Linked DNA regions of Homo sapiens: region 2 is linked to region 1. The links come from fine-mapping of genetic effects on gene expression. Tissue or cell type: whole blood. Region 1 holds a variant in brackets; the other region holds the start of a gene. All regions are shown on one strand. Distances are between the middles of the regions.

Region 1 (6,078 bases):
GCAGGCAGAGTGGGGTGGCAGAGAAGAAGTGTGTTGCAGTGGAAGTAGCTCTGACTTCAGATCATGTAGAAAGGAGAGCTTTAAATTTTTCAGTTGCATTTGACATCGTCACAACCATGCTTCCAGCTCCTCCCCCTCCGCAATGTGAGGAAAGATTGTTTTATTCTCATTTAACAGAAGCCAGAACCAAAGCATAGGTAAGCTAAGAATTTGCCAGAGATCATACAGGGGGTGGATGGGAAAACAGCACATAAAACCTGAGTCTCCTGGTTCTAGCCCCACCCACACCTACCCCCAGCTCCATTAGGCTGGCCATACGATAAAGTGTCATCTGGCTTCACCAAACACAGACCAAAAGCTAGAAGATGAAGATGGGAGATTCCCACGTGCTCTGTAGGAATCACTCAGAACTCCCCGCTCCTACTCCAGGCCTGAAGTTCTGGCACATTCCCACTTGAGAATGTTCCTGACCCCTTAAGACTTACCTCAAGTACCACCCATACAATAAGACTTTTCTGACCTATTCCTATCCTCAAATAATTGGCGACTTCCTCTGTAGAGCCAGATTATACCTTAAACACAGGGCCATTTTTGTGCCTGTAACTTTTTCACATACCTCAGGGCTTGGGTCTGGCTGTTACTCATATTCTTGAGCCTAACACGGTGCTTGTCTCATAGTAGACACTCAATGTCTGTGTGCTGAATGAAAATATGACCTGAACTTTATTCCTTAGAGGTGCAAACCAAAGGCAAGCTCAGCATGGAAAATCCTTGGGAAGTCATGTACCCTCTCTAGGCTTCAGTGTCCTCATCTGTAGAAATGAGGAGAGTAAGAAAACAATAACTCTGAAGGATTACTGTATGTAAGGTTATTGGCAAGGTGCCTGTCTCACAGTAAGCTCTTGATAGGTAGTGGCTATTTTTGGTGGCCAGTCTCCGAGGTGGGCCCAGTGACTCTGACCTCCTGGTATTCATGCCCTTGTATATAGTCCCCTCCTACACTGAATAGGACTGATCTATGTGACCAATAAGATATTGGAGAATTGCCTGAGTGTGACTTCTGAGACTAGGTTGCAAAAATTACTGAGGCTTCTGTCTTGCTCTCTTTTGGATCACTTGATCTGGGGAGAGCCAGACACCAGACACCATGTTGTGAGGACACTTCAGCAGCCCTATGGAGAAGTCCAGATGGTGAGGAGCTGGGCTTCTTGCCAGCATGAGGTGATCATCCAAGTGAGCCATCTTGTAGACTGATTCTCCAGCCCCAGTCAAGCTTTCAGATGACTGCAGTCCTGGCGATTTCTTGACTGCAACTTCAAGAGAGCCAGTTAAGCCACTCCTGAAATCTTGACTTATAGGGACTATATGAGATAAATGTTTATTGTGGATTTAAGCTGCAAAATTTGGGGGGTAACTTGTTACGGAGAAATACGTAATTAATACATGCTTATTGTAAATGGCTGTACAAATATCAATGGAGTCACCTCCTACATGGTCAGTTCCGGTTCTTGACTGATCTCTGTTCACAGGGGCTACAGGGCAAGATGACTGGTTTAACCAAATCAGGACTTCCCCTTCCCCAGATATGAAGAGGTAACTAAAGAGGACATTCTCAGCAACTTAGTATTTTCAGATCCTCACCTGACCTGAGGAAGGTGAGAATGTCTGTCATCTTGGTGCTATCTGCCACATCAGACAAACTTTCAGAGAATATCACAGGACACCAAGTCAGATAATCTCCTCTTACTTGTGTCCTGTATGTAGGTCATCTCTTAACATAGAGGGACAAGTCTTGCCCCAAGAGCTAATCTTGGGGTCCCTTCTCTGTTCCTCACCCCCAGCAGCTGGCAAACTGTCCACATGAATCCCTGGCATGAATCCACCTTCCCAAGCCTTTCACATCACAAAACTGATGAAAATGGTAACATTTTTAAAGTAGCCAATATTTGACAAAGTTTTGAGAGAAACCCTTGGTTTTTCAGGCTACACATGCCTTGGCGATATTCACAGCTTGGGTGATGGGCACAGAGACATTTGGCTTCAAGTTCTCACACAGTTGTGTTACTGTAACTCCAAACCCCCAGTCCCGTGCATTCCCCAGCGATCCTTGCTATCTCCCTAGAGTTTTGGCCGCTGCTTCTGGGGTGTTCCATTTCTCAACAATTGCTGTCATTCTTTCCTCCTGTCCTCAGTTCTCCTGCAGTCCCTGATCTGCTCTGTTCCTGTCAAAACTAAAGGTATTGGATCTCAGCCCCACCCCAAGCAAATACAATTCCTTCAGGTAACTTTCAATTGTCTGACCCTTAAGTGACCACAGACTTTTAAGGCCCCTTGAGACAACCTCAATGTAGGAATCTACAAGTGCCCTGGGCAGAAAGACAGCTCTTTGTCATACACAAAAGCATCCCTTGACTAGGAAAAAAAGGTGTCTCAATATGGGGAATATGAACTATGTCCCTCCTTCACCTCAGAAGATGAATTCTCTGCCTGCTTGGGGCACTCCTTCCTTCTGAGTAGTTGACACAGGCCACGCCTCCTTTCTTTGTTCAAGAATCCCAAAGTTCCCACTATTTTTTCCCAAGGACTTTAAACACCAATAGTCATTAGTTCTATTATGGACAGTCTGCCTT[A/G]GCTCCCCCAAATTCCCAGAGGTGCAAATATATAGACGAGACCCCACCATGATGACCTCCTTGGATTTGAACTGGATACCAAATAGGACTGTGCACAAATCTGGCCTTGACCAATTCCATTCTGTTTGAACGATTTCTCACCATTCCTACCTACAACTCTAGTACCCCATAGGTCCGCCCAATCCAGCTGTGATGGGACCATGAGGGGACATGGTGATCCTAACCAGTAGACCATTCGAAGGTGTTGGTTTGAGAATCACCCAGCATCTGGCCTGACCCAGGCCTCACAGCAAAGCCCCTTGATTTGGTAGCCAGAGGTTGCTTTCACATCTTGACATCTTCACAGTCCCCTGAAAATGGTAGCCATTTCATTGAGTCCCTGGGTGTAGTGAGTCTAATGACCTGTGCTTTAAGCACTAAAGAATGCAGTGAGTTGATTTTTCAGACTCAGCAGAGAAAGCACTGGGTAAAGAGTGTGCTCTTGGAATTATTAAATAGAATAACTCACCTCTGCTTCAGTGAAGACTGTTCCTATTATAGTAAACAATTTATCTGACACTACACTCTTAAGGAAAAGTTATTTAAGTTCTCTCCTAGCACAATACCCTCCACATTGAGGGCAGCCAATTAAGGCTTCTGCTTTGGTTGTATTGCTGTTTCCTTGGGTGGGGAGACCACAAGTTTAACTTTTGCTTGAAGGACCTCTTCCAGTGGTTTTGTCAAAGCTGTGAATTTTATTACCTCAAGTGTGTCAAGGAAGAGGGGCTCCAAATTTAGCCTAGGGCAAAAGGAAAACACAGATCAACCTGTTGCCATTTTTCTTTCTTGTTAGAGAGAAGTACTCTGTTGCCCAGGCTGTACTCAAACTCCTGGGCTCAAGAGATCTGCCCGCCTCAGCTGCCTGTGTAGCTGGGACTATAGGCACCTGCCACCATGTCCGGCTGATTTTTTTTAACATTTTTTGTAGAGGTGGGGGTCTTGCTACGTTGCCCAGGCTGGTCTCGAACTCCTGGACTCAAACAATTCTTCCTCCTCAGCCTCCCAAGTAGGCGGGACTACAGGTGTGCCACGATCCTGCTGCCATTTTTATCCACTGGATTTCCACCTACATGATTACTGAGCCCCGCAGAGTCCAGGGGTTAAACTCCACTTCAGTTTTTTCACCAATAAAACTGACAAACTAATTCATCGCCAAACTTGATACTTAATCTCTGGTAAAGGAAAGATATGTTTCAGCACCAATACTCTTTATGTTAGCCATGCCCAAATTATATAAATACCCTCAATAGCTGCAAAATGCGGGGAAGAAAGCATTTGCTGATTTTTACTCTTCCCAAAGCAAATCCACAAGTACCTTAGCCAAATTGCCTGCAACGTCTTGTAATTTCATGGTGATTTTACTTTGGAAAAGAAAAAGGAGAAATAGAAGGTAAAGTCCTAGGAACTGGACTTTATCTTAATCATCTATCTCTTCTCACACTTGGAGTGACAGGAACAGAGAATGAGGATGGAAATGGTATGATTGATACACATACAAAATCTCACCCGTGGTTAAGACTTTCAGGGGAAATTTAGACCACAGCCTCGGCTTCCCAGTACTCGCTACCCTTTGGAGTAGTTCTGTTTTTAAAAATCAAAAACACAGCATTCGGAGGCTTCAGATAGAAATTATTACAAAAAAATTGACAGAATTTCTCTTCATCAAACGTGATGCTGTACAGCAAACTTAGTTTCTGTGGAGGACAGGCAATTTTAAGCTCGTGACTATTACAGAGATGAGGAGGGAGAGGGACTAAAAAGGGTCCTTGCTTAATAAAATGAAGCCAGCTGTGAAACATTCCCTGAGATTACAGGGGCCCTCCACAGTTATGCGTGCCTAAATCACCTCGAGTCTCTTCCTATCCCAATCCATCTGACACCTGTCTCCAGGCTAATCCTTCTAATCTGAACAGCTGCCTTGGAGACGTCATGCCTTGCCTTGCCTTCAGTGACTCCCCAAGGCCTCCAAAAATGTCAGTTACGCCCTGGCCTGGCCTTTATATTGTGCAAGAATCTGGCTGCCTCTGACATTTAATCTCCCTCTATTCCAACAGAAATCTGTCACTCCAGTGCCCACACCACTTTCTGTTTACCCACCTCCACATATTTACCTGTAATGGTCTCCATTTTCTTCATCTGGAATATCTCCCTCTAACCCCTTCTCAACCACCAACTTCAACATATGATGCAAAGAGTGTGATTTGGAATTAGAGAGATCTGGGTTAAATTCTAGCTCTACTACCTGCTTGCTGTGTGTTGTTGGGCAGGTGTCTCACCTTCTCTGAACATCAGGTTCCTCATCTATACACCAAATTCTCTATACACATCAGGTTCATGGTAGGTGCTCAGTAAAGGTTAACTCCTTTTTCCTGCATGTCTACCCAAGCTCCTAAATCAACTAATTTCTATCATATGGGCCATAGCATAGGTTTGCATGTGAGCATAAGGTTTATGTTCAGTGTTGCAGATTCACCTCTATTCATTAAAGGTGTCATAAAGGAATGGGCCAGGTCAGGAATATAGAGATCATAAGACCTTCTCAGGACAAAGCTCAGAGGCCGGGGCATAAGGGCTCATTCTCTGCCAATGGCACACTGAAATTTCAGCCTCAGGGGAGTGGAACCCAATAGGAGTACTTGGAAAATAGCCAAGCAGTTCACGGACGGGAAATTATAGCATTGCCATGACTCACTGTTAGACAGTTGAAGGAGTTCCTGAATAACAATTTTTTTTTGTAATTCCTAAGAAATTTACAAAAGATGCCAATTAGCAGATTCAGTTCCACGGCACTTGAAGCTTAATTAAAAAAAAAAAAAGCAGATGCATTAGACATGCTTACAATTCCTCTCCCACTTCTAAAAAAATTGCCCCACCAACAGATGTTTAATTTGCCAGGTAATTTGCCATGTGATGAAACCCCTCTTTGCCCATATCTGATTGGTGCAAGGGTAGTCACCTGACCAAAGGGCAGCCATTCCCATAGGCTGGACAGTAACTATGAGCTATGTCCTAGTGCAAAAAAGATGAGCTGAGCCAATCATGTTCTCTGTCTTTCCTAAAACTAGGAAACACAGAAGGAATGAGCCCACAGCAACAAGAACAGAAACTGCAAGGATGCTGTGATATTATAAAGTATATATTTGGTCTTTGTCTCATTTTCTGTCATACAGCTCCTAAAATCCTTGAAATCTCCAAAGTGATAAGAGTATCTTTTGTATGCAAATGAGATGACTGGTGGCTGGCAGCCCTAGGTTGCCTCAGGATGGGGGTTGATCCCATAAAAGACCAAGGGGGGATTATAGAGTTGGAACGTTCAGCCCCATTCTCTAAACTTGGGGGAGGCTGAAGGTTAAGTTGATCATCAATGGCCAGTGATTTAGTCAATCATGCCTAAATGAAGTTTTCCTAA
Region 2 (6,078 bases), 130 kb after region 1:
GAATTTAGAATATCTTCACTCAGTGTGTGCCCAACTCTAAAGCTGTGAGGAATAATATCTGCTCTGATAGATCCTTGGTATAGTATTAAGCAAGAATAATGACACAAATTATAGGAGACTCATTCTGTTCTCTGTATTAACAAAATACAGTACTCTTCAGTGTTAATATATGACCCTTAAAAAATATATAACTGACACTGATTGACTCCTACTACTTGCCAAACATTATGTTAAGTGTTTTATGCCGATAGTTGTATTTAATTCTCACAACTCCATTATGTTGACGCAATTTTACATTTGGGGACACTGAGATTTAGAGCAGTTAAGTACCTGCCCCGAGGCCCATAAACAGTAGGCAACGAAGCTGAAATTCAAACCAAAAGTAGTACAACAACAGAGACTGTGCTCTACTCACTCTAATTTGACTCACATCCCAGCACACAGATCTACAGGACACACATCCTAACATAATTTAAAATGTGTATAAGAAATTGTAATTTAGTTATGTGTACAGTTTTGGCAGAAATTAACGAATAAAATACTGTGTGTCTCAAATTCTGGATCACTTCAAACTGGAATTCCCCCAATGATATCACAAAAGAGCCTCTGATGACCCCCAAATAATCACACACTGGAAGTTTCCACAAATGCCAACTCACTCTTTGGCGGTGAGTGAGTAAAGATAGATTGAGTGGTAGTGACTTCGATGAAACTAGTCGATGGCTTTTATTCTTCGGGTAGCTAAAATTCATTTCCCCCAGTATCCAAGAAATATTTTCACAGCAATGACTTAACAACTTAAATGGAAATATTGAATACACTTTTTTCTTTAAAAGAAAACTGCATATCCTCAGCTTCTTAATCTCAAGCCATAGTCATGCTAGCAGTGGGGCTGTTTTCTGAGCCACTGGCCTACCCACCTTGTGCTTTCCTTGTCTTTAATTTAATTGCCTTCCTTGTCTTTAACAAATGACTCTGCTGTCATTTGTTTCCTATTGTGTTGCATCTGATGCTTTTACTCAGTAAACAAAACTAGAATGTGTTCTGTGATGTTGTTTTAGTTGAGCACAAAATTCAATACATTATCAAGAGAAATGAAACTGAAAGGAGCAAGTCAAGATCGCAGACCTGCGTTTTCTTCTGGGGCCACAGTTGCTGATAAATGATGCAATAATGCCCTCGACAATCTATTCCAGCTACCTCTTGATCTGAAGATCTATGGAAATGGAGTAGTTAGGGGAGGTGGTAGGGTAGCAGTAAAACACTTTCAATTGTTATTAGAATAATTTTGCATCCGCAAGCTGGCAAACGCTATTCACGTCTCTTTACATTGCTCGTTTTATGATGCTCCTAAAGAAAATCCTTGAAAAAAGGAGAAGAAAAAAGAGGTCTGACTAATGGAACAAAAGCTACATCACAGTCTAGTTCTGTCATGTTTTCTCATCCTTAGTAAGATGATGGTTCAATTTTGAATAAAGATTAATTACTTGAATGTGGTTAAAGCATAGTCTAGCCAAATTAATTTTTAAAATGAGAGTCCAGCTATTTTTATCTTATTCTTCACATCCCAGGTGATTTCAATCAGTAAATTTCATAGCAGTGAATATTTTTAAAAAGTATGCTTGGCCATTGGCTTTTACCCATTCGGCATCTCTCTGAATTAAAGTATTAATATTGGGAAACATAACGAGTCTCTCGGAGTGACCTTGCTGACCTATTTTTGACAACATGATTTCGGCTCCCTCATGGCTTGCGATGATAGGTGCTGGTAACATTATCCTTTATGACTAATCTAATTGAAGCAAGTTAGACTTTTAAAAACTAGTTGTGTATGTTAGCTTGACTAGCTTGCTACGCCCTATTTGGTGCTTGGAAAACCAGGCACTGGGTGAATGCTTTTCAATTGCGTCTGTAACTTAGTTTTTCCCTCCTACTGACATAAATGATCCATCTTAATCCTCCCATTCTAGCTGCATATTGTTTTCCAAAACTAAAGCTATATGCCCCAAAACCTTTGCCTTCTATCATGTGGCAGATGACATCTTCCACTGACAGTGAATAATAAATTTACACTCAACCCGCATGGGGAACCTGAACACATAAGCTCCCCACATGCAGAACTATTTCCAAGTGACATTCCCTTCTCTCTTTCCCTTCTACTTCAGTGATGCAGAATAACCATCATATAACAATTAACAATCCTCCTTTAGGGGGATGCTGAATGGAAAGAAAAGAACAGGAGAAGGGCACCTCAATCCAGGTAACGTATTAACAAAAACCCCAGAGCAAACCACAGTCCTTAACAGACACCCTGATAAGGCTCCCAGGACACAGTACTGAGGAAGAGCAAATTCTCCAGTGGGACACATCTCACACGCCAGTGGCTCCTGGTTCTCCCAGCCACATGATCTGTGCCAAAATTCAGATTTAACGCAGTGTCCTCTTTAGTCCCAATGTAATTCTATTTCTAGTTTTGCCAGCCTTAGTTCTGCAAAGCATCAGTATTCTCTTACCAAAAAAAAGTATTAGCTGAAATTCTGGGCCATCTATCACTTATACCCTTTGGTTAAGGACTACTCCCAGTAAGGTATTTTCTGTTGAAGATGCCCACAGCAGTATCCACCCAGGAACCTTGAAAAGGAAGCAGAAATGATTGCATGGGTAACTTACCAGCTCCTGAGGTCTGAATGGCTGCAGCAGCCCCACTCCTTTACCTGATCCCTGCTCTCTCTGTCTCTCTCCCTCTCTCTCTCCCTCTTTCTCTTGTGTACAGATTGCAGGGAACTTAAAGAACTCGCAGGGACAGTGTTTCGAATGACTTAAGAAAGAGAACAGGAACAATACTTCGTTCTCTTTTTCTCAGATGAGTACCTTCGGGAAGAAGGAAGGAAGGGAGGGGAGAGGGAGGAAGTCAACAACCCTTTGCTTTCCTGAAAAAAAATAAGGAAACAGAAGATAGACATCTCATTTTCTCTTAAACAAAATGTTGGAAGGGGCAAAAAAAAAAAATCTTTGAAAAAAGGAATTCCTCAAATATGTTCTCTGCCCTGGGAGCTTTAAAGAGATGAAACGCCTTAGTGGCCTGTCCTGTCCAAACAAACGGTGTTCCAGACAGGCAGGCTCTCCTGAGCCTGCAGCCTCTGGTATCTGGTTTGCAGAACTGACACAGCCGAAAGGGAACAAATCATGTCATGTCGACTTAGAGCAAGGGAGAGCTTGGCCTGTTGTGCTAACCAAGGTAAACCTGCAGCCTGTAAGACAGTGTCGGGGCTGGGCAGCCAGGACTCCTGGCTTTTCTTAGGCCCTTTGAAACACCAGCATTGCTGCAATTCCTCGCTGACTCTAGATCCTTAGAGTTTTTCCAGGATCAAATAGCAGATTTATGCCCACCGAACTTTATACAGTGGACCCAATCCAGCTTCCATCACTGATGGATGAAAAAGGAAAAGAAGCAACTAACCACAACTGCTGCCGGCCATGGTTATCTCAGATCTGTTGTTTATATTATTCTATCCTCTACATTCCTAAGGCGTCTTGGATTTAATCACCTCTGGAAAACTGGAAGGAGATTTCTAATTTGTTTTCAAAATACTGTGAAGCAGCATAGGGTTTAGATAAATCAGCCATGGTGTTCGAAAAAAGATAGGGGAGGCAGGAGCAGTTAAAATGGAGGGAGTAACCTTTATCAAGGTAGAAGACTTGGGGCTTCAGCAGGCAGGCATGAGCTTGCTTAGGCTAGTTGCACTTAGGAATAAGCTTGGTTTTAACTTCTCTGATTTGTGTTATGTCTCTTGTGTCCCTTATTCATCTGGTTAGGACCATTTTCACTGTGAACAGGAACCAGCAGTTATGTAGACCTTTGTGGCAGCAAAAGAAAAACCAGCCTTACACTACTTCCTCATTTCACCCAACTGTGAAAAAAATGGGGTGGACAGATACACCTGATTGCAAAGAGTCATGAAAGTGAGTTCAGGGGAAGAATGATTCTGATTCAGTGACCCTGTAAGATTTTGATTGAGTCCTTATTGGCCTATAGGATTATGTTTTTATTCTGACAGATATTTTTCTATCATCTATCTGTCTATCTATCATCTATCTATCTATCTATCTATCTATCATCTATCTATCTAATCTATCCATATATCTATCTATCTCCCTGTCTATCTAGTTATCTGAATATGTGTGCATGTATCAGAGAGAGACATGAAGATTTTGTTACTCGGTAGGTGTGCACAAGCCAGAGCAGAGTCCCATTCCTTGCATCCGCCACAGCACCAACACTGGCACAACCCATGGCACTGAGTTCTGGCCTGGGTGACCCAGCCTCACCAACAGTGGGGAACACGGATGACCAGAGACAGTCTCTTTGGTTCGCTTAGAGCCACACGCCAACACGTTCCTGTCTCCTGATCCCGGCTCTCGGGCTCTTTGCCCTCTGCTGGCCTTCCTCTACATCCTGCCTTTGTAGAAATGGGAAGGGAAATGAAAATGAAAATCTGAGAAAGCCAGGGAAGGGCATGAGGGAATGGAGCAGGAAGGCCTAGGAATGGAGTCTTTTAAAGGGGGAGAAACACTGGGGCAAACCTTTGAGTAACCGGAGGTGAAACAAGCAGGCAGCTGAAATTCACAATAAAAAAGCAGACGTCCTTGGGAGTGAGGTGGGGTGAGGAGAAGCAATAGGGAGGGGGCAAGGTGTGCGGGGCATCAGCAGCAGAGGAAAGGAGGGACCCAAGGAACAAGACGCTCATGGTACCAACTCCTCACAGGCAGGAAACCGCCTCTGATCACTTGAAGAATCCATTGCAGCTGCACACAGGCCTTCCCATATTTTTACTCCTCTTTGCACCCTCAAGGCAAGGCCAGGGCTGAGCCCCAGGAGTCCAGGCAGAATCCAAAGGATTTCCCTTTTAAGTCTGCAGAATGTGGGGACTGTCACGTTGAGGCTGTGTTGTTGTCTCCAGGCCAGCTGACCCGCCCAGACAGCCTGGATGGGGACATGTGCCATTTCAGGCTGCACGGCTTTGACTGAATGGGGCAGCATCCAGTCGGGATCTGACATCATCCCCGCAGCCAGCCAGGGGACTCTCAAGGCTGCCTTGTGCCAAGCTGCTCCATGCTCACACCGCGTTGCAACCCTGCCTGTGAAATTCACAGAAAAGGCTTTTCCCTCTTTCCTTGTGCTGCCAGTCACCTGAACAGTCACCCTCTAAAACTTGTGAAACCACCCACTGGGTGTCAGGAGCAGAAATTCCTAACCCTCCCATTAGGTTTGGCAGGACAGATTTCTGATCAGTCCACTGGAGCTCTAACTCTGTCCTGGCCTATCTGGATCCTGACTAAAAGTGAAGGATCCAACTGAGACGCATGAGCAGGAATGGCATATGGCCTTGGCTCTCACCCCTCAGGAAAGCCCCATGTTGCACAGCGTATCATAGAGATCACTTGAGTAGAGAGAGGAGCTGCCCACCCCTGGGACGAGATAGGAGGACAGGAGAGAAACCTAGGTGAGGACAGTGCTGTGACCCTAACCCTCAGAACCAGCACCACAGAAATAGGTGCTCTACTCAAAATGGCGTCCTGCCTCTGAAGCGTCCTAATTTGTATGGCACCAGCTTCCAATGACACAGACTCTGGGGTTATCTGTTGACTCCCAGACTAACTTGACTTCAGGTCATGGAGGTAGCAGCGTAGGAGAAAATGGAGAAAGGTTTGGAATAGAACATATTCTTCAGAAAAGTACACAAAACGTAAGTGTACCGGTCAGGGAACTTCACAAAAGGAACATATCTGAGTAGCCAGCCCTCAGATTAAGAAAGAGGACAGAGGCCCCCCAAGCCCCTCCTGTCACTACCTCCTCTCAGGTGCCCTGACTTCCAGCACCTGACATGGATGCACATTACCTGGTTTTGAATTTACATGAAAATGGCATTGGCTTGCACTTCATTTGGTTTCTTTGCCTCGATAGTATATTCATGGGATTCGTCCCTATTGTTGAGTGTAGCTGTGGCTCATTCGCTCTCATTGCTGGATAGGGTTTCATTCTGTGAATATACCACCATTTAGATGTCTGTTCTACTT

What was found. PIP is the estimated chance that this variant, and not a neighbour inherited with it, causes the effect.
Region 2: ZNF366 starts here. The variant in region 1 is fine-mapped to the expression of ZNF366 in whole blood (TOPMed, PIP 0.96).

What each region holds. Positions count from the first base shown.
Region 1 is chr5:72,373,508-72,379,585 of GRCh38, forward strand. It overlaps the pseudogene RPL10AP8. Among named protein-coding and RNA genes, the nearest start is that of PTCD2, 56 kb to the left of the region's middle. The variant A/G (reference allele first, on the strand shown) is at 2,631.
Region 2 is chr5:72,504,581-72,510,658 of GRCh38, forward strand. It overlaps ZNF366 (zinc finger protein 366), which reads right to left and starts at 2,830. Exons shown (of 5, transcript NM_152625.3): 1 at 2,671-2,830.